4 linked regions of the Homo sapiens genome follow. The protein of the gene in region 1 purifies or fractionates together with the protein of each later gene. This does not show direct contact. Each region holds a gene or a part of one and is shown on either strand. Other genes may lie near its edges.

What was found.
Region 2: the proteins of SUSD4 (region 1) and ATP12A purify together in Homo sapiens (affinity purification with mass spectrometry; 3 studies listed by BioGRID and IntAct, with this or other methods). This does not show direct contact.
Region 3: the proteins of SUSD4 (region 1) and ITGAV purify together in Homo sapiens (affinity purification with mass spectrometry; 3 studies listed by BioGRID and IntAct, with this or other methods). This does not show direct contact.
Region 4: the proteins of SUSD4 (region 1) and LRP5 purify together in Homo sapiens (affinity purification with mass spectrometry; 3 studies listed by BioGRID and IntAct, with this or other methods). This does not show direct contact.

What each region holds. Positions count from the first base shown.
Region 1 is NC_000001.11:223,221,154-223,228,608, forward strand, and holds part of SUSD4 (sushi domain-containing protein 4 isoform a precursor), read right to left. Parts: intron 6,586-7,455; coding exon 6,441-6,585; intron 2,479-6,440; coding exon 2,096-2,478; intron 1,068-2,095; coding exon 1,039-1,067; 3' UTR 1-1,038. UniProt on the Homo sapiens protein: Acts as a complement inhibitor by disrupting the formation of the classical C3 convertase.
Region 2 is NC_000013.11:24,696,993-24,704,447, reverse strand, and holds part of ATP12A (potassium-transporting ATPase alpha chain 2), read right to left. Parts: intron 5,791-7,455; coding exon 5,598-5,790; intron 3,702-5,597; coding exon 3,526-3,701; intron 2,514-3,525; coding exon 2,377-2,513; intron 1-2,376. UniProt on the Homo sapiens protein: The catalytic subunit of a H(+)/K(+) ATPase and/or Na(+)/K(+) ATPase pump which transports K(+) ions in exchange for Na(+) and/or H(+) ions across the apical membrane of epithelial cells.
Region 3 is NC_000002.12:186,634,864-186,642,318, reverse strand, and holds part of ITGAV (integrin alpha-V isoform 1 preproprotein), read right to left. Parts: intron 6,238-7,455; coding exon 6,112-6,237; intron 5,255-6,111; coding exon 5,210-5,254; intron 4,043-5,209; coding exon 3,999-4,042; intron 3,911-3,998; coding exon 3,854-3,910; intron 1,405-3,853; coding exon 1,352-1,404; intron 934-1,351; coding exon 731-933; intron 1-730.
Region 4 is NC_000011.10:68,420,462-68,427,916, reverse strand, and holds part of LRP5 (low-density lipoprotein receptor-related protein 5 isoform 1 precursor), read right to left. Parts: intron 4,429-7,455; coding exon 4,220-4,428; intron 2,816-4,219; coding exon 2,625-2,815; intron 1,940-2,624; coding exon 1,730-1,939; intron 1-1,729. UniProt on the Homo sapiens protein: Acts as a coreceptor with members of the frizzled family of seven-transmembrane spanning receptors to transduce signal by Wnt proteins.

The sequences.
Region 1 (7,455 bases):
GAATCTTAGGACAAATAAAAGGGGGAAAAATCCAACCTCACACTTCTTTTGAAGGTCGGATATGTTTACAGAAACAATTTCTGTTTTGGAAAATAAATGTATGGTTCAATTTGGGGCTGGGGGAACAATGACAATTGTCAACTAGAGAGAGGCTCATGATTCTGAGATAAATGTTAAGTGGAGTCTTTTTAAAATGCTGAAACAAAACATTACCTTGGTTACTGTCTCCATCATGAGATGTATTTGAACACATTCTGACCATGTGTAAAAACCACCAGATTTACCCAATGCCATGGATCCATGTGCCACACCATGAATACAAACACTGATGATATGTTACCAGAAGACAGCACAGAGTTCATGAGCTCTACTTTGTGAAGAAATTTCCAGAAAGCAGAGTCTGCCCATCTTTCCTTTCCTTTCTCACTGCAACTGCCACATCCTGCTTTCGTCTTGCTTCGAGTAGAGTTGTCTGGATGAAGGAAGATTCTCCAAATGTCACACAAGGACCTTTCCTTTGGGAGCTGGTCCCTTGCTGAGGGTGCAGGAGGCTCTGCTGTTCTTCCAGCATCTCAACACAAACTTTCTGCAGAGGCTGACCCATCCAAATTTGGAGTCCAGAGACAGTTTGAAGCAGATGTTAGAAGCAAATTTACATGATGTGACATGCTTTCAGAGGGGGCGGGGAGTACTTGCCAGTCAATGGGATGCGTGATGATTCGGTGGGATGTGCGTGGAATTGTCCCATGTTCCACAGCACGATACACATTTAACACCCCTCATCCAAGACCACGCGAGGGCTTCCCTGCTGCCCCGGTTCCCCATGGGTCTTGGTGAATCCTCAAATCTCATTTAAAAGCACTGCCATTGCAGTTTGTCAGCCTCACTGTGGAGCCTGAGATGCATAATGTGAACTGTGGTCCCCATGTAGACAAGTTAGACATTTTGCCCCCAGGCTCTATCCTTCTGTGACCTCACTCCAAGATACAAGGTCCTTTCCCCGAAGGAGCAGGAGAGTCATCTGGATCTTGACCCATATTAGGGATCTTCTTCCATTAGAGGAATCTCTGTAAAAGAAGAGACGGTTATTAGCTTAACATAACCAGAAAACACCATGACGATCTGGAATTATATGCCTCATTAAAATATCTACAGTTTCTCAAATCAGTGAGGAGAAGAAAATGTTAAGTTCCACATACCAGTTAATAACCAAATAAATCAACCTCCTATACAACATCTTTCTGTAACAATTGTTCTTTGCCAGGAAACAATTATGATCTTATTTCCAGTTCATAAAAAATAAAATGTTACATTTTAACCATAGGCCTTAATGGTCACACAAGCCAGAAAGTTGCAAATTCAAGTACAGAAAGGCAGCGTGGTTTGCAGAAAAGGAACACTGTGGTGGCCCAGGAGACCTCTGTTTCCACGTCATTACTGCCATTTACTCTCAATATAAGCCAAATTAGTGCTCTCATTTGCAAAGTGGCACTGGGGCTCCCCTTCTGTAGGAAACAGAGACCTAATCAATCTGACACATTTTCCTTATTTTACCATGAATCTACCCTTCCTTGTGACAGGTACACATGCATCTTTTACTTCACATCTGGTAAAAATAACTTCTATGTACACAGAACTCTGGGGCTAGAACACACTGCTGGGCCCTAGTGCGTGCCTCTGGATCCTTCTTCCTGGCATGTATGTGCCATCCTGTCCCTAAGCCCCACTTCCAGGAGTCCTATCTAATTAAGGAATAAAGAAGAAATACATTCCAGATCATACAGACACCACAAAAATGAAGCACCGGCCACTGCTGCCTTTCTACTCTGGATGGCTCGATGCCTTTTGGTGCCTCTTGAAATTTCCATTAATGGGCTCATTACTTGCAAGATGATGATCATTCCCTACAATAATTGGCCTTGCCCAAGGCCTCTACATGGAGAGAGAGCATGAAGCAATTTAAGCTGAGTGAGAGGTAAACAGATTGATTCGACTCTGTGCTGGGGGGTGGAGCGTGCGTAGCAAGGAGCTGGCTTGAAGATGCTGGTGCGGAGGTGTTTGCAGGTGTGGCTTGGGCCCTGGGGCAAGCACTTACCATCTGCAATGTCGATGCCTGGGCTGGTGGATGCCACCTCCTCTGCCGTGCTGGCAATTATGTCAGGGTTGTCCGAAGCAGGGTGGGTGCTCTCTTGGCACCTGGGAGGTGAATACAGACTTTGGAGCAGCTCAGAAGAGCCTGAGACGCTGTCACAGGTTTCTGACTCCCCTGGGCCTGTGTCCGTGTCCCCTGAGCCGGGGTATGCTGGGGGGCTCTGGTCGTCCACGGGTAAGGGGCAGCCCTGGCCCACAGAGGCCATGTACCCGGGGCCTAAGGCACTCAAGCCGCCACTCACAGCTTCGTCATAGGACGGGAGCATGACGGGCACGCCGTCTACCACCACAAAGTCAGGGTCACTGCTGGAACTCCGGGGAGGCCCCCTGTGTAAAGGAAAGAAGTGCCAACATGTGAGAGCCATGCCACTCTGGGGATGAGGCCACCCATACTCCCTCCTGCACTCGGGGTCCTCAGGACCCACGATGGGCAGCAGAGTCCCGTATGGAGGATAATATGGAAGAACCAGCCTCCTTTCAGGGACTCCTCTGGAAGATGATGCTGCCATCCCGGCTGCCCATGCTCCGGAGAGAGGAGGTTTTCTTTTTGTCACTCTCTCGTGTCCTCCTGCCTCTGGGCCTTACTATCTCCTCATGCTTTTTCCCTTGCTCCTTTGACCTGTGGGCTTTGGCCTTCTGGCCATAAGCTCATGGAGCAAGGGACAACATAACCCTTTCTAACAGAGCAGCCCAGTGCACCTCTGAAGTGTCCTGTAGGATGGGATTGAAAGTGGGATAGCACTGTTAAAAGTACAGAAAATAGGTCAGGTGTGGTGGCTCACACCTGCAATCCCAGCACTTTGGGAGGTTTTGCTTGAGCCCAGGAGTTTGAGACCAGCCTGGGCAACATAGTGAAACCCTGCCTATACAAAAAATAAAAATGTTAGCCACATGTGGTGGCACGTGCCTGTAGCCCTAGCTATTCAAGAGGCTGAGGCAGGAGGATCCCTGGAGCCCAGGAGTTTGAGGCTGCAGTGAGCCATGATCGCACCACTGCACTCCAGCCTGGGTAACAGAGCGAGATGTTGTCTCATAAACAAACAAACAAACAAACAAAAAACAGTAACTGTGGACCCTCAGTGCCCAGAGGGACTAGCTGGCCCTATGCTCATCATGTTTCTTTGTTGTTTTCTGCATTCAGTATAAAAATCATTACATTTTAGTCTAGATTTAAAAAAAGAAAAAGAAAAAGGAAAGAAGGAAAAAAAAGGAAAGCTGTGAGCACTATGTCACTACCCCGTTCAAGCTACGCAGGCTCACCGCCACCTCCTGACCCCCCGCCACTCTTCTAAGCAAGGCCCGGGTTGCTGGTGTGAGGGCTCCAGGAGCGGCGGCAAAGTGAGTCTGCATGTCTGCAGGGCTCCCTCACGTGGGCGCGCACACAGTTCCTGGCCTGCTCCCTTTGCTTCTCAGCCCTCTGCACATTCAACACTGCCTGATTGGAGCCCGGGGCGTCTGACATCACAGCCTGGGCTCCGTGTGACCCCCATACTCTGCTCCTGGCCTCAAGAGGAACCCAGGGTGGCTAATAAGTAGCCAATAGAACTTGGTTTCTTCCTTTTTTTTTTTTTTTTTTTTTTTTTGAGATAGAGTCTCACTCTGTCACTCAGGCTGGAGTACAGTGGCACGATCTTGGCTCACTGAAACCTCCGCCTCCCAGGCTCATGCGATTCTCCTGCCTCAGCCTCCCGAGTAGCTGGGATTACAGGCATGCACCACCACCCCCAGCTAATTTTTGTATTTTTAGGAGAGACAAGGTTTCACCATGTTGGCCAGGCTGGTCTTGAACTCCTGACCTCAGGTGATCCACCTGCCTCAGACTCCTAGAGTGCTGGGATTACAGACGTGAGCCACTGTGCCCGGCCGGAACTTGGTTTCTTATTGTCTCTGCTGGGAACTGGTGCTGAGGGAGGAGGCCAAAGGTAAAATATGAGGAAGAGAAGACCCAGCTGGGTGGGCAGACCCTGAATCTCTGAGTGCTGGCGGCAGGGGCTCTAAACCCAAGAAGATGAAACGTCTGGGGGTGGAGGGGAAGCACAGGCTGTGCGTCTCTCTAAAGCTCAAGTCCACTGACTTTTTGAAACATCTTGCAAAGGCTTGGAGATTATGGTGGTGGACTCCTTGTCCCGCAGCTCTTAAAGACTGCCCAGAGAGGGCGGGAGACCACCAAGACCATGCTCTTCAGGGGGCAGAAGACAAGAGGCAGGAGGAAAGGAGGAGCTTGCTCCGAGCCAGACTGCTCTCCCTCCACAGCCACCAGTAGTTACTGCTTACCAGTAGTTACTGCTTCCTTGACAATGATGCTCCCTTCCTCTCCGGCCACTTCACTGTCTTGTGCTGGCCTCCTCTTCTCACTCAGGACTCCCTGCCTCCTCACCATCCCTGGCACCTCCATGTTGTCTAGGCCAGGGTGAGCAGACGCCTCTCTTCTCCATTTCTCACCCTAACAGTCCACACCCAGGATACAGCTCCCAAGATCTGGCAGCTTCCCCTCCACGTGTCCCCGCCATGCCACTCAGCTCCCATACACCCCTCGTCAACATCCCTGCAGGCTCTACTCTTGTGGAACCTGGAGAAAAAAAGTCCATTCTTGGTTTGCCCTTGAGATTCTTGTCATGCATTTGGATTCATGTCATGTATTTGAAGCCAACCTTCCCAAAACAACTCAAGAATAATATAAGATGAAAGACTCAAGGGCTGAAGAACATCAAATGAAAGGGTTTCAAGAACATTTTAAAAACATCTTAATATTTAGTGGATATCCTGGAAACTTTTCTTCCAAGCATATGTAGAAAAATAGCTCTGTGGGCTCTTTTAAAGTACTTGAACGCACTATCAATCACAGCCTTGTGGGTTGGCTTTCTCTTTGTAATCCTTAGGCCTTCTTGAGATACTGTAATTGCTCAATGATAGAACATGGTCCCTTGATGAATATATAATAATGTGGAAGACAGAGAGTGGATGGCAGGTTGGAGAGGAAGGAAGGTTTCAGCATCTTAGCAAGAGCTTGCTATGGCACCAGGATGGCACTGACACACCTCTGGGCCTGGGGAGGGATGCAGGTGACACCCACATCTAGCACACATTTGTGGCTGGGGAAAGAGGGATGCACCTATCAGGTTGTGACCATAGCGGGTCCCTGCTGCCAGGCAGGGGAGAATTGCTAAGTGAGGGAGGCCGCCCTGTGAGGTGTGAGGTTAAGGGCAAAGGCGGGTAGGTGCTGTCTCCAGCAGCTCTGCCCATTTCCTTCACTCCTCTCACAGCTGGGAGATGTGAGCAACACACTGCATTTTCCTGAAGGGAAGAGAGAAGTGGTTAATTCCAGGAGCCTCCTCCTCCATGAGCAATAGTCCCTTTTTCAGGTACATATGACTCTGGGGACTAGGCTGTCCCTGTGGGCAAAAAACAAATGCCCTTTTCTGAAGCATTAGGTTCTGAAATGAGAAGACTCTGACATGGCCACAGAAGGCAAGGAAAAGACAGCTTGTACCAATGGCCCCTGGCTAGTGTTCTGTGGTGTTTTGCTGTCCTCACCTCTTCTTCTCAATGTTCATAAACTTATCCTTTTGCTGTCTAAACTACTTCTCCCTCCAGGAACAATGATTTGCCAGCAGTAGTGCTGGGTGGCTCTTCTTTGTTCCTAAGGGTGCTGGTGCAGTCCTCTTTGGTGGTGATGACTTGAGGCTGAAGATACCAACCCGAGCTGATTGGTGCAGCTCAGAAGGATGTAGAAGCGCCTTCCACATGTCCCACTCCAGGGGTTCAGATAAGACTTCATGGTAGACTCTCACTAGCCCTTTCCTGATTGCTCCTGGAATCAGAAAAGTCTTTTCTCCTTCCTGAGGCTTCTCAATGCATAACACTTTTGTTCACACACCTCTGACCTGTGTCCCAGTCAGCTGTGTGCGCATCTTACCCTCCCTATAGACTGAGCTGTGTGGTGCTTCACTCCAGGGCCACATGCAGGGGGACCACAGTGGGAATGGTGCCTCTGGGTGGAGCAGTCCACAGCCTGTAGCCCTAACTCTGTGATCCCATCGCTAGCCCCCCATGATGCCCACCTGCAAATGGTCTACTGCAGGAAGGAGGGAGAGAGGTAGGAAAGAAAGAAAGAGGAAAATGAGGTCTGTCTCCAGCTTTGTGCTCAAAACATCCCAGAACATTGTTTTTGCTCTCCCCTGTTTCCCTTTAGAGCTTCAACTTTTCACTCATCACTTTCTCCCTCTGCTGCTAAGGGTAGCTGCATTGAGTCAGACCTTGAGCCACAGCTGCCAAGACATGACACTGACCTGGGGGGAAAGTGGGCCTTGAACTTGGTCTGGAACATCCTGGCCAGGATGACGAGCAGCAGCACCAGCAGCACACTGGTTGCCGTGAACGCCACAATCTTCCACGTGGTCAGGAGGGTCTCATGGGTGCTGGGCCACGTTTGCTCTGCATGAGGGAGAACAAAGCTGTACGTGAGGCTCCCAGACCATGAGAGGTGCCGAGGTTCCCCGTGGGCTCATTTGCTGGATTCATCTGGCACAAGAGATGCGTGCAAGGTGCCTCTGACCCCCAGGGCTCGGCAGAGATACCATGTGCCCCTGTAGCTCATGTAAATTGCATCAGGATCCACCCAACACTAAAAACCTGTCTCCAGCATGGGCTCTGCCAGGTTGCAGACCTGCATGCTCACATTCCAGTCCCAGGCGCAGGCCTGGCACAGGCTTAAATAATGCATCTGCCTCTTGAGAACAGAGGTGGGCATCTCTCTTGCCTGGAGAAGTTGCTCCGAAATGGACCAAGGGGTGGGGGAGTGGGAAGCTGGGCCCTTTGTGAATGTTCTGGGATATGCTGTGGGGTTGGGTAAAGCAAGAAACAGAGGGTAAAGGGGACCCCTGTTCCACAGCTCTCATGCCCTACCACCTCTAGCCATCAACTGCCTGCCAGGTCAGGGGCAGCAAGAGCAGACCTTTCCAGAAGAGACTTATCCTTTGGGCACAGGCCACCCTGTCTCTTAAATGTCTCTCTGCCTTGTCATGACCACCCTCTTAGACACTCTCTTTGCACTTCTCCCCCGGCTGGCTCACAGGATCATGTGTGCGCCTCCAGAGACCTGGCATTAACAAGTGCTTCCTTGTGTCCAGGGGAAAGGCATGCAGTCATCAGCACTGCTCAGGGCAGCATCCCCAGCCTGGAAAGGGCTGGAGAGAGTGGGAAGGAGACAGTGGGTGTGTGCTGGTGCCCCAGTCTCTATCCTGTGGTCACTACCCAGGTGCACTGAGGCCAGTGGGGAAGGTGGTTTGCAATTAAGTCATTTGC
Region 2 (7,455 bases), on another chromosome or scaffold:
ACTAGACAAAGACCACAAAAGATCCTTGAATGGAAGGCCAAACAAATCTTCCTAAGTAGGGAAGGAAGGGCAAATATAAAAAAGAAGCAATTGAGAAGATGCAGGAATAAGGTATCTTATATACAACTTTCATTAAAAATTGCTAAAATGGGCCAGGCGCAGTGGCTTACGCCTGTAATCTCTACACTCTGGGAAGCCAAGGCGAGCAGAACCCTTGCAGTCAGGAGTTAAAGACCAGCCTGGCCAACATCGTGAAACCCCGTCTCTACTAAAAGTACAAAAACTAGCCGGGTGTGGTGGCACATGCCTGTAACCCCAGCTACTCAGGAGGCTGAGGCAGGAGAATTGCTTGAACCCAGGAGGTGGAGGCTGCAATGAGATTTCACCACTGCACTCCACACTCCAGCCTAGGCAACAGAGAAAGACTCCATCTCAAAAAAAAAAAAATCTGCTAAAATTTTAAATTAAAGTCCCAGCTACTTGGGAGGCTGAGAGGGGAGGATCCCTTGAACCCAGGAGGTGGAGGCTGCAATGAGATTTCACCACTGCACTCCACACTCCAGCCTAGGCAACAGAGAAAGACTCCATCTCAAAAAAAAAAAAATCTGCTAAAATGAAGCTGGGTGCAGTGACACAAGCCTGTAGTCCCAGCTACTTGGGAGGCTGAGAGGGGAGGATCCCTTGAACCCAGGAGGTCGAGGCTGCAGTGAGCTATGATCACACCATTGCACTCCAGCCTGGGTGATCTGACAGGACACCTTGTATCTAAAAAAAGAAGACTCGGCTGGTCTGAAGGTAGTAGTGAATTAGCTCAACTGATTGTTCACAGTCAGTTACAGATCAAACTTCTACTCTTTCCCCTCTTCTCACTACTGCACTTGACTACTCTTAAAAAAATTTCTTTTAGTCCAGGTGTGGTGGCTCACGCCTGTAAGCCCAGCACTTTGGGAGGCTAAGGTGGGTGGATCACTTGAGGTCAGGAGTTTGAGACCAGCCTGGCCAACATGGCAAAGCCCCGTCTCTACTAAAAATACAAAATTAGCCAGGCATGGTGGCGGGCGCCTGTAATCCCAGCTATTCAGGAGGCTGAGGCAGGAGAATCGCTTGAACCCAGGAGGTGGAGATTGCAGTGAGCTGAGATCACACCACTGCATTACAGCGTGGGTGACAGAGAGAGACTCTGTCTAAATAAACAAACAAACAAACAAACAAAATTTGTTTAAAATTCTAAAGTGAAAAAAAGTATAATCCGATTATCTTACAAAACCAAACAAATAAACAAGCCCCAAAGTTGTTTTCATAGAGGGATGTTATGTATACTAAAGGGCACTGCAAGACTCTTAGACTTCAGGTACTGCTGCTGTGCCCAGAGGCGGGAACCCTGGTTGGTTGTCTAACGTGGTAATTTGTTATGACCTGACAGCTGTGTGTCCCTAAAAGACCTAAGTGCTTGGGGAAACTGAAGAGGTGCATTGGTCTTTCCCTCATCTCCCGCATGCGTGAAAACATAACCCAGCTAATGAACATTACTTCTCAACCTGAGAATTCGGAGTCTTTGACTCATGGAGACCAGGCACAGTCCAGGCCACTCTCCTGCATGCCCAGCTCCCTAGCCTTGTGTGGCTCCCTCATTACACTGGCCACATCATTGTTAGCTTTGTTTGTGTCTCCTTGGCTCGATGGAAAGATTCCCCAACGGTGTGGATAGTATTGTTCAGTTTGCTACTGTAGTTCCAGGTCTTGCCTGGTATATAGTTGGCACGCAGTAAATACTTGTTGAAAGAACAAATACATGAGTGAATGTACAGTTGGATGAACATGATTAAAAGAATAAGGATAAACATGATTAAAAGAATTAGGAGAAACAAGGAAAAAAACTTTCCTTAGGAAGCTTCCATTCTATCTATTACCAAATAAAAAAGAAGGGTGTGTTTACATAGCTACACGTTATGAAACCGGGTGGATAAATACCCAAGATGCTTACCAAGGAGGGTGCATGAAACAACCCACAGGGTTCTTACGATTCCAAATTATGCAACTGCATCTATGGCAAGTAATTTCACATAAACCCTTTGTTTCAGTTTTTCTTATTCTAAATTGGGCACATAGGTTTTGTGCCCAGGGCACACTGGATTTTGAAATTTCAAACAAGGAACACATAAAGGGTCATTTCATGGTATCAATACTGTGCCTGGCACATATTAGCTGCTCAGTGAAATTAGAGTGAATACATGGATATGCAAATAATAGCTCAAACAAGCCTAGCATAACTCTGAGAGCAAAAAGCTGATTTGTTCCAAGTAGTGCAGCTCTTTAGAGCCAGTGGGGCCCCATGGGTATAAACTGGAATTTTTACTATGCTGCTCCTGTGCTTACCGTTTGTTAACTTGCTCCACAGCAATGTTGAGGCGATGTGCAATGTCTTCCACTGTTTCACTGTTGGCTGAAATGATCCCCACACTCTTGGCAATAGCTTTGGCTGTGATGGGATGATCACCAGTAACCATAATAACCTAGAGCAAAGACAACGAGAAGGCCCACGGGTAATGAAGAACTCGGTTGGCCAAAGTGGGGATGGTTCAGTAATACCTACTCTGTAGTGCCCTGGGAGAACGTGGTTGGTGATTACAGTGGCAGCTCTGGATCTACGAGACAACTGTCTTTGGAGGAAACACTAATCCCATTGGGTCTACCCTTGCTCCTAAGCTTCATACGCTTCCTCCTCTGACATGAAAGGAAGCCCTTCCCCTTTGATGCCACTTTATTTGTGAAAGGGCTGGTGAGTGTCTACTTGGGGGTAGCCCCATGTTACTTCAACAGTCTTAATATTAACCTAGTAATGATGAACATGGATTATGGGGGCTGAGCCTCAAGACTGAGTAATAAAGCCTTTTTTCTTTCTTTTTTTCTTTTCTTTTCTTTCTTTCTTTTTTTTTTTTTTTTTTTGAGACAGAGTTTCACTCTTGTTGCCCAAGCTGGAGTGCAATGGTGTGATCTCGGCTCACTGCAACCTCTGCCTCCTGGATTCAAGAGATTCTCCTGCCTCAGCCTCCCGAGTAGCTGGGATTACAGGTGTGTGCCACCACATCTGGCTAATTTTTTTGTATTTTTAGTAGAAACGGGGTTTCACCATGTTGGCCATGGCTGGTCTGGAACTCCTGACCTCAGATGATCCGCCTGCCTCAGCTTCCCAAAGTGCTGGGATTTCAGGCATGAGCCACTGCGCCCAGCCAATAAAGCCTTTTAGTATCTACCATGGACTAGGGCGAGATATGGTCACTTCAAGGCACTAGGAGATTCTTCTCATTGCATTTACTGTTTATGTGGTTCATTCCACATAGACACAATCATTTTCTTTTTGTGGGACAGTTTCAGTAACCTTAGCACAGTGAAACTAGAAATAAAATAGGAATTATGATATTTACTTGAAGACACCTAAATACTGACCATCTGCTATGAAAACCATTATTAGAAAGGAACACGACATAAAGAAAGAACTTCTTGAGTCAGGAAAATAACTCCCACCTTGATCCCTGCACTCCGGCATTTGGTGACTGCATCTGGCACGGTGGACCGAGGGGGATCGATCATTGACAAGAGTCCCACAAAACAGAGGTTGGAGGTCGGAAAGTTCATAGCGTCTATGTCAAATGAGTAGGTTTCTGGAAACTCGTCTGCTGGCAGGTAGAGATGACAGAAACCTGTAATACAGATGAATTAGTGAGTCAGTGAAACTAGAATAGGAAACGAAAAAAAATAAGAGGAGAACATGCTCATACACCTTGGTCCTCTGCTGTTTTACCAATACATTAGAATAAGCCAGAATTGTTTAATTTCTTCAACTCCATAATGCATTTTTTTAGGAAAGACATATTTCATCCAAATATAATTCACTGTGAGCTCATTAGGCTCTGTGTTCTAGAAATATATCTTGCTATATTGCCAAGTTCTAGGGCAATACACAGTCTCGACTTCTGAAGTTTAGCGGGGCACAGAGTTAAAGGGATCAAGCATAGGGTACATCTCAGGGCAGAGACACATTTCAGCTGCCTGGAGGATTAGGAGAGACTTCCCCAAGGAGGTCACATGTGAGGTGAAGCTTGAGAGGGGCAAAGATGATTTCTAGGGAAAAAAGGGAGGGTGGAGGTGGGAAGGCCATTTTCAGCAGAGAAAACAGCATGTGAAGGAACAAGGGGGTTCAGCGGAGGGGCACAAAGTTCAGTGCTAGATCAAGATAAGCCCAAGAGAAAGGCCAGCAGGAATGGGGCCGAGCCATCCTTTTCTCAGAAGGCATCAGCCTCTCATAGGCTGAGGTGGAAGGGACTCTTGTGTCTGGTGGGACCTCCAAGATTGTGTGATCAGCTTTCACATCCAATTTATTTTCAGCCTGGCCCACTGCTTTGCAAATGTCAATGGAGCAGGCTTTGAGAAATCAAACGCAAGTGGGCATCGATCCCGTGTAGAATACCCGGTACTGTGGGTTATTGGATGCCTAAAGCATCACCATCTCATTTATATGCTTTATCTGATTTGCCAACTCCAATAGCCTTTAGAAACACACATTCCACAGACTGCATCTGTATTGGTGAGGACTTCCATGGTGTTTAATGAGCCGGATCGTCAACCATACACTTCTGTTTCCTTGAATTTGTCATTCTGTGGTCCTGATGGGGCACCATTCCGCCAGCCCTGGTGCTGACAACAGGACACACTGTCCCCTTTGACAACACCGCAGGCACCCCCATTGGGTCCTCCTCCTGTTGCATTTCTAAGGTTCCTTCCTTCCTGACACTTTGTCTGCATCACTGGCATCACTCTCTTCCTAGTCGTTAAATGGGAAGCTTAATCATTTTTAAACATTATCCTTCTCTGATAGGTTCTAAATCTTACCAAACTCTACCTCTATGAAGTCTCTTGCCCTGATCTCTCCTTCCCATTCCCATCACCCTGAAAAAATTCCCATCCCTTTTGCCTGAGCAAGGGCAGCTGCTTCCTATGGAGATGTGCATCTCTCCTCTCCCTGCTGCCGCCAAAGACATTTAAAGAAGTTAAAGAAATTTAACTCCTTCCATAAAGTCTTCCCCAGCCCTGCGACTGCCCAGCTCACTCTAGTGGCACAGCCCTCAGTGCTCTCTACTGACTGCAGGATGAAACCTGGCTCCTCACCCAGATGTTCAAGACCTCCATCTCATGACCTCCAGTCCAGCCCTTGAACCCTGTTTCTGTGACAGTGCCATCTCACCTGCTGGCAGCACCCAATGTGCCCCACGCCGTTCTGCCTCTGTGATTGGCCTGTGCTGTTCCCTGGGCCCTGGATACTTTCCCCTATCTCCCCTCAAATGCAGTCACTTAAGGCCCAGTTTGAAATTTAACTCCTTCCATAAAGTCTTCCCTGAGCTTGCCTCTCTGGAGGCCATCCCACCCTGCTTGGTGCTGTCACACAGCATCCTCTCCTTGTTCCCATCCTGCTTATCATGTTCTCCTTTACATGCTTCACGTGGATGCCATGGCCACTGGGCTAGGTCACAGGTCCTCAAGGCGCCTGCCTCATCTCTGTGCCCACCAGGTGATGGGCAGGGCCCTGCCGCCGCACTCACCCAGCACACGCTCGCCCAACCCGCCCAGCTCCATGTAGGCTGTGTGGAAGGTCTTGGCAGTGCTCTTGTCCAGTGGGTGCTCCTCGCCGTTGATCATGATGGTGCTGCATTTCTCTAGGATGCGCTCAGGGGCCCCCTTCATCACCATGAGGAAGCGCTTGCCGTGGGGGTCATCCATCTCGTGGATGGAGAGCTGGGAAGGAATGAACTGAGCGTGTTACTTACAGAAAGGTGAAACGCATTCCTTCTTCTCTACTGGTCCATTAAATGTAAAGGAGGAAGAGGCACAATGGCATCCTCAGCATGTTCCGCCCTTTTTCTTTCTGTGGCCAAGTAAGACGAAGAGCTCTAGACTTGGCCCCAGCCCAGAGTGGGGCACCCACTCTGGATAAGTGGAGCTCATCTTTCAAGCAAAACTGGCTGCTTTAGGCAGGCTAGTTGTGGCCGTCAGCGTGTGAAATCTTGTGCCTTGAACAAGATCTCCCAGGGTGCCCGTGAGAGTTAGGGGGCTGCGAGCCTCTGCATCTCACCTCCTCTACCTCCCTGTGGGGAGCAGCCGTCTTTCAGACCCAAACTATTCTGAGCTCAGGAGGGGAGGAGGCGACAGGAATTTCTGCACCTCCTCACCTCATTGTCCACCCAGTTTTCCTGCTTGGATGTCATAGAAAATGGCGGGGTGTGAGGAAGTGGACACTTCCACGTATAATGTTTCAGGAAGACAGCCGAGTCACAGGAGTCTCCATTTTAATAGGAATGCTCTTGACCCAGCAATTCTACTTCTAGATCCATCCTAATAAGATATGCAAAAAAAATCGATATACAAGAATAAAAGGACTAACTCTTATCTAGCCCTTCTGATAAGCCAGGTACTCTTCTAAGCACTCAAGAGGAATCTCAGGAAGCTGGAGTGTTTGGGAGAAAATAAGTTGCAAAGAAAAGTGCTACAATTTTGGGTAAAACAGTTCTTTACAAATCAGTATTTCTTAGACTTCTGGGTATCAAAGATGAGTACAAAAAGAAGTATAGGGCAAATAGGGTTACCAGCTGCTGCTGCTGCTTTTTTTAATGATCAAGTAAAGACATTGAGAAAACCAACCAACCAACAAAAACCAAACCAAACAGAAAACCTCCCAGCTCTATCACTTTCTAAAATATAGGCCTTTTCTTTTTCTTTCTCTCTTTCTCTCTTAAATTTTTTTTTTTTTTTTTTTGAGACGGGGTCCCACTCTGTGCCCCAGGCTGGAGTGCAGTGGCACGATCACAGCTCACTGCAGCCTCGACCTCCCAGGCTCAAGCAATCCTCCCACCTCAGCCTCCCAAGTAGCTGGGACTACAGGTATGTGCCACCATGCCCAGCTAATTTCGTTTTTTGTTTTTTTTGTAGAGATAAGGTCTTGGTATATTGCCCAGGCTGGTCTTGAACTCCTGGGCTCAAGCAATCTGCCTTCTTCGATCTCCCAAAGTGCTGTGATTACAGGTGTGAGCCACTGTACCTGGCCAAGATAAGGCTTTTTACATTTAAAACATAGGGATAATATGAAACACTTTTATGGTATGTACCACGTGCCAGGCACTGTTCTAAGTGCTGTCCACATCGACTTATTTATTCTCAAAACAACTTTAAGGCCATGGGTACTATTATTATTCCCTTTTACAAAGGAGGAAACTGAGGCACAGAGGTTCAATGCTTCACTCAGGGTCACTGAGCAATAGGTGGCTATCTGGTGGCTGAGCTGGGATTTGAGCCCAGGCTAGCAGGCTCCAGAGTCCCTGCCCTTAATCATGGTGGCTACAAAGGATAATCTTTTAAATTAAATACATTCATCTTTATATAAAACTTTATAAAACATTTTCCAAT
Region 3 (7,455 bases), on another chromosome or scaffold:
TAGGCTTACTATACTGTTGATTACACAAACTAGTTCAACTATCCATTCTGTGATCTCTAGAAAGGTTTTTAACAGATTAAAAAAAAAATCTTGGTAATTTGTAACCTATATTTCAGGTTTCTGAAAAGAGTTCTAAAGTAAAAGCTAACTTTGCTTTTTAAAGATATCGACAACTATTAAAATGGTACTATTATAAACGAATAGGCTTATACTTTTAATATGCCACCATAAAGGGAGATATAACATCCCTTAGAACATTTTGGACAGCTACAACAAAGTTATGGCTTTAAAAATATTAATGGCAAATCATACCTTTGAGGTATGCATTAGTCAGCATTGCCTTGACAATGTGCCTGGAAGCATTTTTTTTTAACACTTGTAGCCAAATGAACAGAAGAGGGCACTGCTGCTAAGCAGGATGCAGAAACACATACCAGCTAGCAGTAGGCACCAGGGTAATGAAGGTTCCTTTCAGAAAGTAATCATTCTGACCTTCTAATTTGAGGCCAAGTGAATAATAACTCATGAGAGTCCATTATTGAAATCTTTGCTCTGATTTTTAAAGAAAAATAGCAAACTGTCTTTAAATTTGGTGTGTTACTCACTTACACACAATCCACCTTTCCAGGAAGGAGATTTGCTCGTGTAGACTTCTACAGATGGACTTACAGAACTTTTCCAGGTGGACACAGATAATCAGGGACCTGTAGCTGCTAAACTTTGATCTTACCATTGAAACCATCCTGGTCCAGATCTCCCAAAGGAGCTATGGCACTGCCAAACCGTGCAAAGACCTCAAATCCATTCAGCTTTGTCGTCTGGAAGTCTCCTGAAGCTCTCTGTAGAGACACTGAGACCTGCCCCACCTCTTGGAGTTTGCCATCAGAGCCACGATCCATGAAGAGAGGTGCTCCAATAAACACATCTGCATAACTAGAAGAACAGAAACTTCTCACCAAAGCAAGAACAAATTTCATGTCTTAGTAGGCATTTTCTTTCTTACTACAACTCACTTTTCCTCTTTCTGCATCTCTCACACCCACAGTGAAACACAAAATGATTACCAGAGCACTCATTTCAAATTTGAAACTTCCTTTAATTCTTTTAAGAAACTATGAATAATTCATAAAATTACTTTATTTGTTCATGTTATAAAAGCTACTGAAAAAAAACAGAACAAACATATGAGGTTTTCTAGAATTCATGATTAAGGTTGCTTCAAATTGTTTCCTTAAACAGAAAGATTAGCAGAAAAGGAATACAAAAACAGAAGAAAAAAATGTTTAGTTTGAGTAAAGTATTCGTAAACATGAGAAGATAACTTTCTGGAAACATTTTTTTTTAAACTTACTCATCTCCATTAATGTCAGTGGCAGCTACAGAAAATCCGAAATATGCAGCCATCTGGATAAAAAGATGAAAATGAAATGTTTATATTTCATCCAATTAGTTTAGACAATTAACATTTGTAATATATGTACCAAATAGGGTTATTTTTTTTCTCTGCATATAGTGCTTCAATCTAAATGTCTTGTCTTTTGTTTATTCTACCAACACAATGACAATCAGGTAATGAGGCTTGTTGTTTTCCTAGATCATGGACACAATATATTACATGTATATACACAATATATTACATGTATATCCTTCCAGTGTTGTTGATATATGACATTTAAGTCTAAGGACTATCAATTCTCCTTCTCAGGCCTACCCTACTATCTCCCTTTCTCTCCACTTCCCAAAACATACCAGACACAAGCACACTAACAAAGATATATAGTCACAGACAAATGTTGTGATTGAACCCAACAAGTTTTATATGGATGCCTATGTCATGAGGATAATAGATAATAATTATTAATAACAGATAATAATTGGCTCCCCTATGTGTAACTACTACTACTGTTTAAAAATTACTGTTTGGAAAGATATGGAAAGGAGCTCATTTTTGTGTCATATCTCTATAGATTACTTGCCACATGATTTTGCTTTTGAATCACACACAGTACAAATGTGTTTGGGTTTATTATGAGCTTATAATGCACAGGGAGCAGAAATGTCCTCTTCCCTACCACAGGAGACCACAGGCTTGCATAGGATGAGCAGCTTAGCTGTAAATAAATGTGAAAAAGGAAAGCTCTAAAGAGAGCTGAAAGTGCAAAACAAAACTAAAAGAGATGACAGATTAAATATAAAGTAAGGTGAAAAATGAGTCAACAAACCAAAAAAGGAAAGTTAGCAATGCTTCTCAAATTTGATTGGCTCAGATATCAAGGGAGAATGATAAGGGAGATTCCTGCATTATCTATTTTGGGTTGATACAGTGTAATTGGGAAAATGAAAGGTGTGTTCTGTATTAAATAACAAGTTCAGAGCTTGTGAAATAAAATATACTGTGTTTGGGGTACAAGGTTGATGTGCCGACTATGTAACAGAATAATATTCATGGGCCTTAGTCACCTATGGTGTTTGGCTTGGAAGTGTAAAGAAAGGATGGCATTTACTGAGACACACTTTGTCCCGGGCACTATGATTCGAATGTTTTCTTTTGATTCTCACAACTGTCCCATGAGGAAGTTGTCAGCATCCCTATTTTTATAAATAAGAAACAGATTTTCAGCAGCAAATACCTTATCCAATGCAATAACAGATTGAGCATGGAAAACCCAGGTTTGTCCTCATCTAAAAGCCACGCTTCCCACTCCTCTCTAGCCACCCCCACTTCCCAATAGTGGAAGGAGGAATAAAGCAAGTATCATTGAGTGCATGCAGTAGGATCCAGACTCATACATGGTCACCAGACAGGAGAAGCTGCTTGAGCTGGAGAAGTCAAAACGGAACAAAGGGACCACCCCTGCAGCAACCCTAACTGCCTGTCAACTGCAGGGCCCTCCAGGTTGTGCATCAATCTTGACTGCCATACAAATGGGAGGAGGTTTCTGGGGACCATGAGTCTAGTCAGTCAGCCTGTCAATCCTATCCCAAAGCCCAACAATCTCAACTGAACAAAAAGGCTTGAATCCCAGATCTGCAAACTTTGAGAAAGATTTTTCTCTACCTACTGTTTAAATGTTTATTCATCATTACCAACTTATGGTATAATTCTTTGAGACATACAACAGAGAATATTATAAAATGCCTGTACTCGCAGAGAAATGTCTAATACTTAAAAAGTACTAGCATTTTTTTAGCTGAGAAATATCTTATTTCATGTAGTAAAAATGAAGTTCGCTTATAATATCTATAATACACATATCTGTGCCATGCTTTCTGTTGCATCTAATAAAATTATAAGGCATTGATCATCCTTAAAAAAGAATTTAAAGAATTCTTTTCTCTTTTTTCTTTTCAGTAAAGAAAAAGGAAGTCTTTGTGGTTTTGTATGCATGTGATTTTGCATTTCCTAAAAAAAAAAAAAAAAGGAAACAAAAACAAGCCAAAATATCCAAATTACTTTGGTTAAAACAAAGATGAAATATTTAAAGCCCATCTTATATCTAGAATATTGAATATTATGGAATCATTAAACCATTCTGATACTGCCAAGGAAAGTTTTAAGAAATTAGAAACTCTGATGATAAAATATTGAGTGAAAAAGGCAAGACAAAATGAAAAATACAGAGTAAACCAATTTTTGTTTATATACTACACACACACACACACACACACACACACACACACACACACGCTCAAAAGAGAAATGATAATAGTTTGACCAAAATGGTAAGAGTTGGAAGAATTATCTATTTGATGAGATTATAGTTCATTTTTACAGTTTTATTTCGCAAATTTTCTCCAATGAGTACATACTGCTTTTATAGTGGGAGAGGACGATCATATTTTGGAAGCATACCTGCTCGCCAGTAAAATTGTATAAGGAGGACATGTTCTTCCCATCATAAATATAAACCTGTGAAGGAAAAATAGAAGTATGTGAAATCTGGTAAAATAGAAGATAACTTAGAGATTTTTTAAAAAATACCTTTTAACTGTCCTACCATTCCCAAAGTCCTTGCTGCTCTTGGAACTCCTGAAACAAAGTCTGAAACAAACAAACAAACAAATTATTCATTTTTTAGGACAACACTGGAAGTTGCAGACCAGAAGTGACTATGTCAGCAAGCTTTAAGTTTTACTACTTCAGTTCAAAACAAACAATCAATTTAGAAAAATTGGTACTCCGTAATAAATAGCCCAGCATTTTTAAACTATAAAATCAAAATTTACAAAATACAAATTCTGGAGGGCTCTCAAACATATGCAAATAAGCCCTCAAGTCATTTGTAATATTGTTAAACAAGAATAGACAAGATAAAGTAACCTAAGAATGAAGAAAAACTACATTTAGTTTAGTAGTACAGTAATGAAAAATAATACAGAGCAAACTGAAGTGGGGTAGAAGTGGCTGTGGCACAAAAATGTGATCAAAATCAGGTAAAGACTGTGATTCCTAAACGGAGCTCTGAAGGAAGATGGATGGACAATGAGAGGATGGGGTAATAACCGTACAGAGATGGCCCAGAAGGTAACAAAGGATGCCTAAAGAAAGAAGACACTAATTCTTCCTCCCAGAGGAATGAATTTGCTGAAGACAAGGAGGAAAATGCTAAGGAAATCACTAACAGTGTTGGGGGCTAAAAAGAAGCAGAAAGGAAAGGCACTGAAGCCAAGTGTAGCTGTCTCAATTTCAGCAGCCACTAGAGGAAGTTCAGCACAGACCTAGCCTGGACTCTCACCAGTGTGCTAACATCTTCCTCATTTCTTCTGTTATATTCCATAACAATGGTTTAAAATTGCTTAAAATTTTATTTTCTTTTCCTTTTTTTTTTTTTTTTTTGAGACAGGGTCTCGGCTCTGTCGCCCGGGCGGGAGTGCAGTGGCGCAATCACAACTCACAGCAGCCTCAACCTCCCTGGGCTCTGGAGATCCTCCCACCTCAGCCTCCTGAGAAGCTAGACACTGGTGTGCATCACCGCGCCCGGCTAATTTTTGTGTTTTTTCTAGAGGCAGGGTTTTGCCATGTTGTCCAGACTGTTCTTGAACTCCAGGGCTCAAGGGATCCACCCGCCTCAGCCTCCCAAAGTGCTGAGATTACAGGCTGCAGCCACAGCACCCAGCCACTCAAACTGCTTAAAATTTTCAATGCCACATGTTTCAAATACTTAATCTAATTTTTTTAAAGATTAGATATAGTTCAAGTACTTCATACCATCTATGCCATCACCATTGAAATCTCCGACAGCCACAGAATAACCTAAACAGGAAACCAAAGGGGAGAACCATCAGGACAAGGACGTTATCTTCAGCAGGCTTGCTGAGTAAGCATTCCTTGAAAATATTTTCAAGAAACTCCTTTACTTATGCAATATTTTGTCCCCTAGTCATAACAGATTCATATATATATGACATATGAATTTTAAATGAAACTGAGTTAAATACTCAAATAGTCTATTTTTATTACAAAACTACAATTGTCTTATTAACTTTACAAAGGAGTCTGTTAAAAACACCAAATTTACAACTCATCATAAAGAACAAATAAATTCTCTCAATCAGCAAGTACTATTTCTGTCATATATGACTTGTTTTAATATATCATAAAGAAATTGAAAGAGAGAACACATGTTAATAAGTCCTAAAGACCAAAACTTTTATTTAACATCATGAAGAAAACTTCAGGAGTTAGACTGTCTCCATTTGAATCTCTGAACAGCAAGTTACAAGCGAGTGACTTTGGGCAAGTTATTTTGCGTCTCAGTGCCTCAGTGTTTTCACCTACAAAATGAGAATAATACAGTATGCTTGACTTGTGAGGATTAAATGAGTGAATACAAACCAAGTCACCTTGAACAATGCCCAGAACACAGTAAGCATATCTTAAAGGCTAGCTATTATTATTATCACTGCACAAATAATCACTGTCTTCAATTTCAATTACTGAAACGTAACATAACCAAAGTACTCATTAACAATTTGAAATTGTATATTCTGTATGTTTCAAAAAATCCTAATCTATTTCACATAAAATATTTTTCTACTTAAAAGACCATACTCAGATATAAGATATATGTACCACAGTTCCAAAAATGAGTAAATTTTGGTTTTACCTACCCAAATAGCTGTCATCAAAAATAGCTTGTGCAGTCCGAGTTGCTAATTGGTTATTATACTTGATGCTGTAAACATTGGGGTCGTATTTAGATACGATTTCTGCCACTTGATCCGAAATAAGCTGACCTAAAAAAGGGTGTATATATAAAATAAATAACCTTCAAATGGAAACTTTATGATACAGATAATGTATGGTACCTGCATGAAGGAAAACAATATTAGATATTAGTACTTCTAATTATTAGCCGTACATAACTCTCCTTGATCATACTCAATTTGAAAATGGATATTCTTAACTTAAAATTATTTCTGTTTAAGCCAGTACTTAAAAGTAGTCTCTGCTAATAAAAATTTAAGAAAACAGGACTTGTCTTAAATCACTAGAAAGCAATGTTAAATACACGGAATAATAAAATCAAAGGCTATCACCCAACTAATCCATTAAAACATGAAAAATTTACTGAAACAATACTGTTACTTTTATAATCAGAATAATTGGTTCAATTGATATTTTTTAACTAGTAATTTAAACATCTTTAGGAAACAACCTGAATGGATGAGTTCACCTTTGTTCACAACCTTGTTATTAAGCAGACAAGAAATCTAGATGACTACACAAAAATCAGCCTGCCCTCCATGCCAAGAAAGGATAGCTGGTTTATCAAGTGTTGTCTCCACAATATGGACACAGTAATCTCTTATCATTTCTGCTGTTTTAGAAAGAAATGTGTAACAGCTAACATTTTCAGTCCTGTTCCCATCTGTTCAGTCACAGAGACTGGATCTACAGCACAGAAGCACTTTCTCTGTCCAGGTCACTACTTTATCATCTGGGCTTCAGCGGTACCAAGAACATATGAAATTCAATAAACATTTCCTGAATTGAAGAACAGAGGAAAATTCATTATTTCTTCTGAATAAAACATTATTCTTTTCTCCATTCTAACAACGACAATTCTGAGATCTGTGAAAAAATTCATTCTAACGTACTTATCCAGGGTGACATCTGCTGATTTTAATCTTATTAAAACAAAATACTATTTGCCAATTCACTGAGTCTGCTAGCTATATATTACAGACAACTTGTAATAAAATTCTAATAAATATAATATTAATAGTACCTCTCTGTCCTAATTTATTACTGTGTCCTAATTATTACACATTCCTATTTATTATTATTCCTATTTATGCAATACCCATGGCATTAAAAAAAAAGGTCATACATTTTCACAGCTGTATCTCTTAAAAAGACAGAGTTAACAAGTAGTCCTAACTGAGAATCACAAAATTTAGCTTCCTTGACAGTTTTGGTTCCCAGGCATGCTCATCAGATACTTCCTTCCC
Region 4 (7,455 bases), on another chromosome or scaffold:
GCGTTATTCTATCCAGTTAACCAAATGTGTCCAACACCCGGACAATGAGAAGAAGAGGAGGCAGCTTGGAGGGAGAGCTGACCACACCCAGGTGGAAGAAATGACAGAAGACGCTCTGTTCCCTGCCCCACCCAGAAAAATTTCACAGTGTCCTTACTCAGTCTCAAGGATTCAGTGTTCGGTTTTTTTGGGATAGGGTCTCTTTGTCACTACCACCCCTGGCCCTTTTTTTTTTTTGAGACGGAGTCTCACTCTATTGCCTAGGCTGGAGTGCAGTGGCGTAATTTTGGCTCACTGCAACTTCCGCCTCCCAGGTTCAAGTAATTCTCCCACCTCAGCCTCCCCAGTAGCTGGGAATACAGGCGCCTGCCACCACACCCAGCTAATTTTTGTATTTTTAGTAGAGACGGGATTTCACTATGTTGGGCAGGCTGGTCTCGAACTCCCAACCTCAAGTGATCAGCCCACCTTGGTCTCCCAAAGTGCTGGGATTATAGGCATGAGCCACCAAGCCCAGCCTGGTCCCTTTTTGTTTGTATTTTTTGTAGGGATGGGTTCTCACCATGTTGCCCAGGCTGGTCTCAAGTAATCCTCAGATGGTTACCATGGAGGGGAGGAAGGACTGTGGTCCCAGCTGTGGAGGCCCCTCCCCCAAGCCCTGGGACACAGCAAGGCAGTGGCAGGCAGAATCCTAAATGACCCCGTAATTTCCCACCCCAGTCCCCAGCACGGCGTCATGACCTTATGTGGCAGAAGGGATTCTGCAGATGTGATTAAGGTTATTAATCAGCCGACTTGGAGTCTATCAAAGGGGAGGCTAACCTAATCTAAAGGTGGCTGAGCCGAATCACAGGGCCCTTTAGAAGCAAATCAGAGAGACTCAAGGTGTGGGAGGGACTGACGCAGGGAGCCCCCACTGCTGAGGCAGAGAGGGCCACGGGGCAAGGACCTGTGGTGGCCTCTAGGAGCTGAGAGTGGTCCCCGACCAATAACCAGAGAGAAAACAGAACCTCGATCCCACAACTGCTACCTGCTGAGTGAGCAAGGAAGCTAATTTCTCCACAGAGCCTCCGCTGAGGGCCCAGCGTTCCTGACACCTTGATTCTGGCCCCGTGAGACCCTGAGCAGAGAACCCAGGTGAGCCACGCTGTGCCTGGACTTTGCCTTACAGAACTGAGAGACAATCCGTGGGTGTTGTCAGGCCAGTGGCTCACACCTATAATCCTAGCACTTTGGGAGGCCACAGCAGGCAGATAGCTTGTGCCCAGGAGTTGCAGACCAGCCTGGGCAACATGGGGAAACCCCGTCTCTACAAAAAAAAATTAGCCAGGTGTGGTGGTGCCCACCTGTAGTCCCAGCTACCTGGGAGGCTGAGGCAAGGTGTTCACTTAATTAAGCCCAGAGGTCGAGGCTGCAGTGAACTGTGTTTGCACCAGGGCACCCCAGCCTGGGCAACAGAGCAAGATCCTGACTCAAAAAAAAAAAAAAAAAAAGAGTTGGTGTTGTCTTAAAACGCTGTTCGTGGTGATTTGTTCTGCGGCAAAAGAAAACAACCTCAGAGGCCTCGGGACATTCGGACATGTCGCTGAACCCCAGCGGGCAACAGTTGGCATCTGGCAGAGACCACCGCCTGGCTGAGGCCACACAGGATCTTGCACTGGCCTCCAGCCTCCTCCAGGGGTCGGGTTTAGAGGCCACCCTGCCCACCCCACTGCCAGCCCCCACGTACAGAACTCCTCCAGGCTGACTTCCTCCACTGCATGGATGCCAGTGAGGTGGGCGACACGGCCCTGGATGCGAGTCCGCTTGTCCCCGGTGGTCTTCTCCACACGCTCGATCATCTGCTGCTGGCGGTCGATCCAGTAGAGATGCTTGCCAAGGATGGTCAGGCCCAGAGGCTGCACGATGTTGGCGTCCTCCAGGGTCAGGCGGTTGGCCCCTGCAAGCAGCCCGTGGGCCCCCCTGAGCAGTGCTGACCTCCAGAACTTGCCCCACACTCAGCTTGGGAGGACAGAGGTTGACAGGACTGCCAGGGAGCCTGGGGGATTCCATGCTTTGGACAGGGGTGGGAGCTGCAGCAGAGTCCCTGGAAGCAGGCCGACCCAAGACAAGCCCTCGGAAAGCCCTGCTCCCACCTGGGCTGGGCTCGGGATGAAGGCCATCAGTTCCAACGGCGGGCCTCGGTCACTGGCCCCTGCAAGCATGGCCCCTCCCTTCACCCATCTACCTCATCATAAGAGGAAAAGCCATGGGGACCTGCGCCCCCTCTCTAAGCACCAACTCTCATTTCTCTCCAGCCCTCGCAGCCTAACACAGTCCAGAGCAGAGCAGCTTCTTGCGCAGGTGCTGGGGGCAGAGGCTAGGCTGCAGTCCTGCTCCATCTCCTGCTGTGGGGCCCCAAGCAGCTCGCTCACCCTCTCTGAGACTCATTTTCTGCCTCTGCCCTGTGGGGCTCACTCAGAACCCCAGCCTACAGCTGTCAGTGTGAGGACAAAACACGCTACACACAAAGCCCCTGGCGCGGCACTGGGCTCACGGCAGGTCTCGGACAATGTGGCAGCTGCTGCCATTACTGACAATGAAGGCCGGGTGTCTGCGGTTAGGGCAGGCCCCGGGGCGCGTACCTGACAGGTCACAGCTCTCAATGCGCTTCAGGTCCGCGTCCACCCAGAACAGCTTGCCCAGTGTGTTGTCCACCACCAGGGCCACAGGGCGGATGAGGCCGGTGGTGAAGAGGACCTCGCGCTCGGTGCCGTCCAGGGCTGCGCGTTCGATCTTGGCTGCCCGGTCCTGCATGTTGGTGAAGTACAGGTACCTGCGGGAGGGTGGCGGGTGAAGGACGGGTGTGGGGATGGCGTCTCCTCGGACAGCACGGAGCCCAGGGCACCCAGCTGGGCTGTGGAAAGCCCCTGCCTCTCAGGGCTGCCCGAGGCTGACAGGTCACATTCTATACTAGTTGAACAATGCTCTCCAAATTCCCGCTCACCCCAGAACCTCAGAATGTGAGCTTATTTGGAAGCAGGGTCTTTACAAATGTCATGAAGGATCAAGATACGACCACAATGGGTGAGGGTAGGCCCTAAATCCAACTGAAGTGTCCTTCAATGGTACAGAAGAGGCCACGCCATGTGCAGCCAGACAGAGAGACTGGAGTGACAGGACCACAAGTCAAGGGGTGCCTGGAGCCACCAGAAGCCCAAAGGTTCCCTCAGAGCCTTCAGAGGGCGCAGGGCCCTGCCCACACCTCGATCTCGGGCTTCAGCCCTCAGGAACTGTGAGAGAACAAGTGTCCATTACTCTCAGCCACCTGGCTTCTGGTAATTTCTGACAGCAGCCATGGGAAACAGGTGCAGGCCCCCCACAGCTGCTAAGGACCCCGGAGCCCTGGCTGTTGGGAGACCAGCTCGGCTGGCTCCTGCACAGCCGCCTTATAGACCCGGGGCTTCCGCCCACCGAGCCCCCCGTGTGCTGCAGAGGCCGCACCACTGTGGCCGTCACTCCTACCAATGAGGAAACTGAGTCTCCAAGAGGCTATGCCACCCGCCCAAGGTCACGTGGCCAGTAAGTGACAGAGTCAGGGCTCAATCTCTGGGCTCCCGGCCCAGGACCTGTGCTGGCTGTAGCTCCCGTCTTCATGCCAGCCCCCCAGCTATCTGAGGAAGGCCATCGCGCTCCTGTCCCCAAACGTTCCCGTGCTCAGTTTGGAGCCTGAGTTTCATGTCACATGGGTTTCGGTCTCCCTCTTTCCCTGGCTTTTCTCTCTGGAGACCTCAAGGTCCTGGGTGCCTTCCCACCAACCAGAAGCTCTGACGACCAACAGGTGGGAGCGTCGGGGGCCTCTGGGAGGAAGAAGCCCAGGAGCTCCCTGTGGTGGAACAGGAGCGAGTCAACAGGCAGCCCCCATGCCGTGGAAGGGATTTCTGCACAGGGTTCAAGTTTAACAAGGATGATACAAAACCTATCAACTGCAACTCCCGTCGGCCAGCGCTGCCTTGTAACCTCTCAGCAGAGCTCCCCCTTCCCTTCCAGCCCTTGGGGCTTTCTGCTTTCCTGGAGGGGCTGTGAAAGAGCCTGTGTTTGCTTTTGGGACCCTGGAAAGCCACCCATTGGATCCCCAGGGTGGAAAGTCTCCCCAGCCTGTGAGAGGCTGGCATTCGGCAGAAGACACGGCGGGCACGCCTGGACGGGCAGCACCCCCACCCACCCGTTGGCCTCCTACCCTCGCTCCGCGTTGACGACGATGGCCCTGGGCTTGTCGCGGTCCCCACGCAGCACCACCCCCATGGCTTCCCCGCTCAGCCTGTGGACGTTGATGGTATTGGTGGCCTCGCACGTCCAGAACAGTGTCCGGCTGTAGATGTCGATGCTGAGGTCGTGGGGCTGCCTGTCTGGGTTTTGGCCTTGGCTCAGAGAGGTCAAAACAAAGGGCTGTAAGACAAAGAAACCAAGACTCCTGAGCACTGGCGGAGACCCCTGGGCACTGGCGGAGACCCCTGGCACTGGCGGAGACCCCCGGGCACTGGTGGAGACCCCCGGGCACTGGCTGGAGAGCCCTGGGCACTGGCTGGAGAGCTCTGGCAGGACAGCAGAGGCCACACTTCTCAAGTTTAGCCTGAAAGTCAAATCCCAGTATTGGTGTGGGGGTCTCTCCTCTCCAATCAGCTCCTAACTACGTGCCCGCCTGAGTATGCCAGAGCGATTAGGACAACAGCCTCTGGAAGAGCTCTTGCCGCCTCGGACTTTAGGCCTCCTCAGCCACCCGCCGGGCACCCAGCTGTGCATCACTAGACTGGCGCTCCCATGAAGGCCCCATTGACAGTCGAGAAGGGATCCAAGACCATGGGGCCCTTCCCAACACATCCCTGTCTCCTCCACCTTCCAGGACTCAAGCTTTTGGACTGCGGCCCTCACGTACTGTTTTCTCTGCAGGGCACCAGGACAGACAGTTTGGGGGCCGCCCCTTACAACCCCTTCCCCAACGGAAGGAGGCCAGGTGAGGGGAGGGCAGGTGAGGGTGGGGGTTAGGTGAAGGTGGGGGACAGGTGAGGGTGCAGGGGCGGGTGAGTGGGGGAGGTGAAGGTACAGGGGAGGTGAGGGTGGGTAGGGAAGGTGCGGGTAAAGGGATCGGTACAGATGTGGGGGTAGGTGAGGCTGGGGGCCAGGTGAGGGTGGGTAGGGGCAGGTGAGTGTGGGGAATGACTCAGAGCCCCTCTTGGGAAGGCAGGGCAGCCACGTCTCTCAGTGACTCTCAAGGACTCTCCGTCTCCACACTCTCTGGGGTCACCGTCCAGGAGATGCTCGAGCGCTGCCTAAGCCCAGCCCACCCTGTGCATCTCAGGGATGAGCCTGGGCTTTTGGGGCCTCCGACACAGCATCCCTTCGAAGGGCTCTTACTGAGCTGACGTAGGAGGAGAGGACAGCCCAGAAGCCTACTGCCTGCGGGGATCTGGTTCCTTTGGGTTACCCTGAAAGACAGCTGCATCCAAGTTCCCGAGTGATTTGGCCTGGGGCAAATGGGGCCTGGAGCACCTGGGCTCCTGCCACCCAGGCCTGAAGGAAAAGCTCCCCTCCCTCTCCATTGAGTCAGAGGGAATCATCTTAGGATGGTGCTCTGATAGTAAGTCTTTTCAGACTTTCTTTATCTAGGTCTTTCAGCAGTTAATAAAACAGGGAGACAGCAGTGGCTCACACCTGTGATCCCAGAATGTCGGGAAACTGAGGTGGGAGAATCACTTGAGTTCAGGAGTTTGAGACTAGTCTGGGCAACATAGCAAGACTCCATCTGTATCAAAAAAAATTAAACCAACCAAACAAAAAAAACAATAGCTCAGTATGGTGACGCACGCCTACAGTCCCAGCTATTCAGAAGGCTGAGGTGGGAGGATCGCTTCAGCCTGGGAGGCCGAGGCTGCAGTGAGCTATGCTCATATCACCATACCCCAGCCTGGGTGACAGAGTGAGACCCTGTCTCAAAAAAATACAAATAAAACAAAGTCTCTAAGTAGATAAAAAGAAGCGTCTTCCCCAGGCCCAGTCTCTTGGACCCAGATGGAAAGGGTGCCTCCCCCATACACACACACACACCACACACCACACACACGCGCACACACACACACACACCCCACACACACACACCCCCAGATGGAAAGGGTGCCTCCCTCCCCCATACACACACACACACCACACACACACCACACACACACACACACACACACACACACACACACACAGCCTTGCTGGGCAGCTGCAAAGACATCATCACTTTCATCTGGACACGAAGGATCATGTGTCTTTGTAGATAACAACATCCACATCACTACAGAGCTGTGGACCCTAGGGGGCCATGTGTCAAAGCCAACTGAACAAATTCCTTCCTAAAAGCCACTAGCTGTGGACCCTGGACTGGTACAGCTGCCGGGCTGAAAGACAAGCAAGATTCCAGCTACCCTGGCCAAAATCAGGCTCACCGTGGAGGGTGGGTCTGTGGGAACCAGATGCAAAAACAGACTTTGGGACAGCAGTCTGGAGAACCACCATCTGAGAAACGTGTACTGTGTGACGTGACACCCTGGCCACACTCCTCCCGGGCACAAAAACAACACAGCAAACTTTACGCGGCTGGCCAGTTTCATAAACCCTGAACTCTTTTTTTTTTTGAGACGGAGTCTTGCGTGAGACAGAGTTTTGCGTGAGACGGAGTCTTGCTCTGTTGCCCAGGCTCGAGTGCAGTGAAGCGATCTCGGCTCACCGCAAGCTCCGCCTCCCGGGTTCACGCCATTCTCCTGCCTCAGCCTCCCAAGTAGCTGGGACTACAGGTGCCCGCCACCACACCTGGCTAGTTTTTTGGTATTTTTAGTAGAGACGGGGTTTCACCATGTTGGCCAGGATGGTCTTGATCTCCTGACCTCATGATCCGCCCGCCCTGGCCTCCCAAAGTGCTGGGATTACAGGCGTGAGCCACCGCGCCCGGCCCCTGAGCTTTCATTTTAATGTAGTACAAATACTTATGGTTAGTGCAAACTTTCTTACCAGAATCCTATGCAACACCACAAACACGCCTTTTCCTCACTAGTACAAAACCTTCACCACGGAAGGAAATGTTCATAGTGGCCTTATTCACGACAACCAAAGGTGGAAGAAACCTAGCACCCGTGGATGGATAAATAACAAGAAGTGGTCCGTCCATCCATCCGATGATTTTTTTTTTTTTTGAGACAGGAAGTCTCACTCTGTTACCCAGGCTGGACTGCAGAGGCACAATCTTGGTTCACTGCAACCTCTGCCTCCCGGGTACAAGCGATTCTCCTGCCTCAGCCTCCTGAGTAACTGGGATTACAGGTGCGCGCCACCACACCCAGCTAATTTTGTACTTTTAGTAGAGCCAGGGTTTCACTATGTTGGCCAGGCTGGTCTCAAACTCCTGACCTCAAGTGATCTGCCCACCTCGGACTCCCA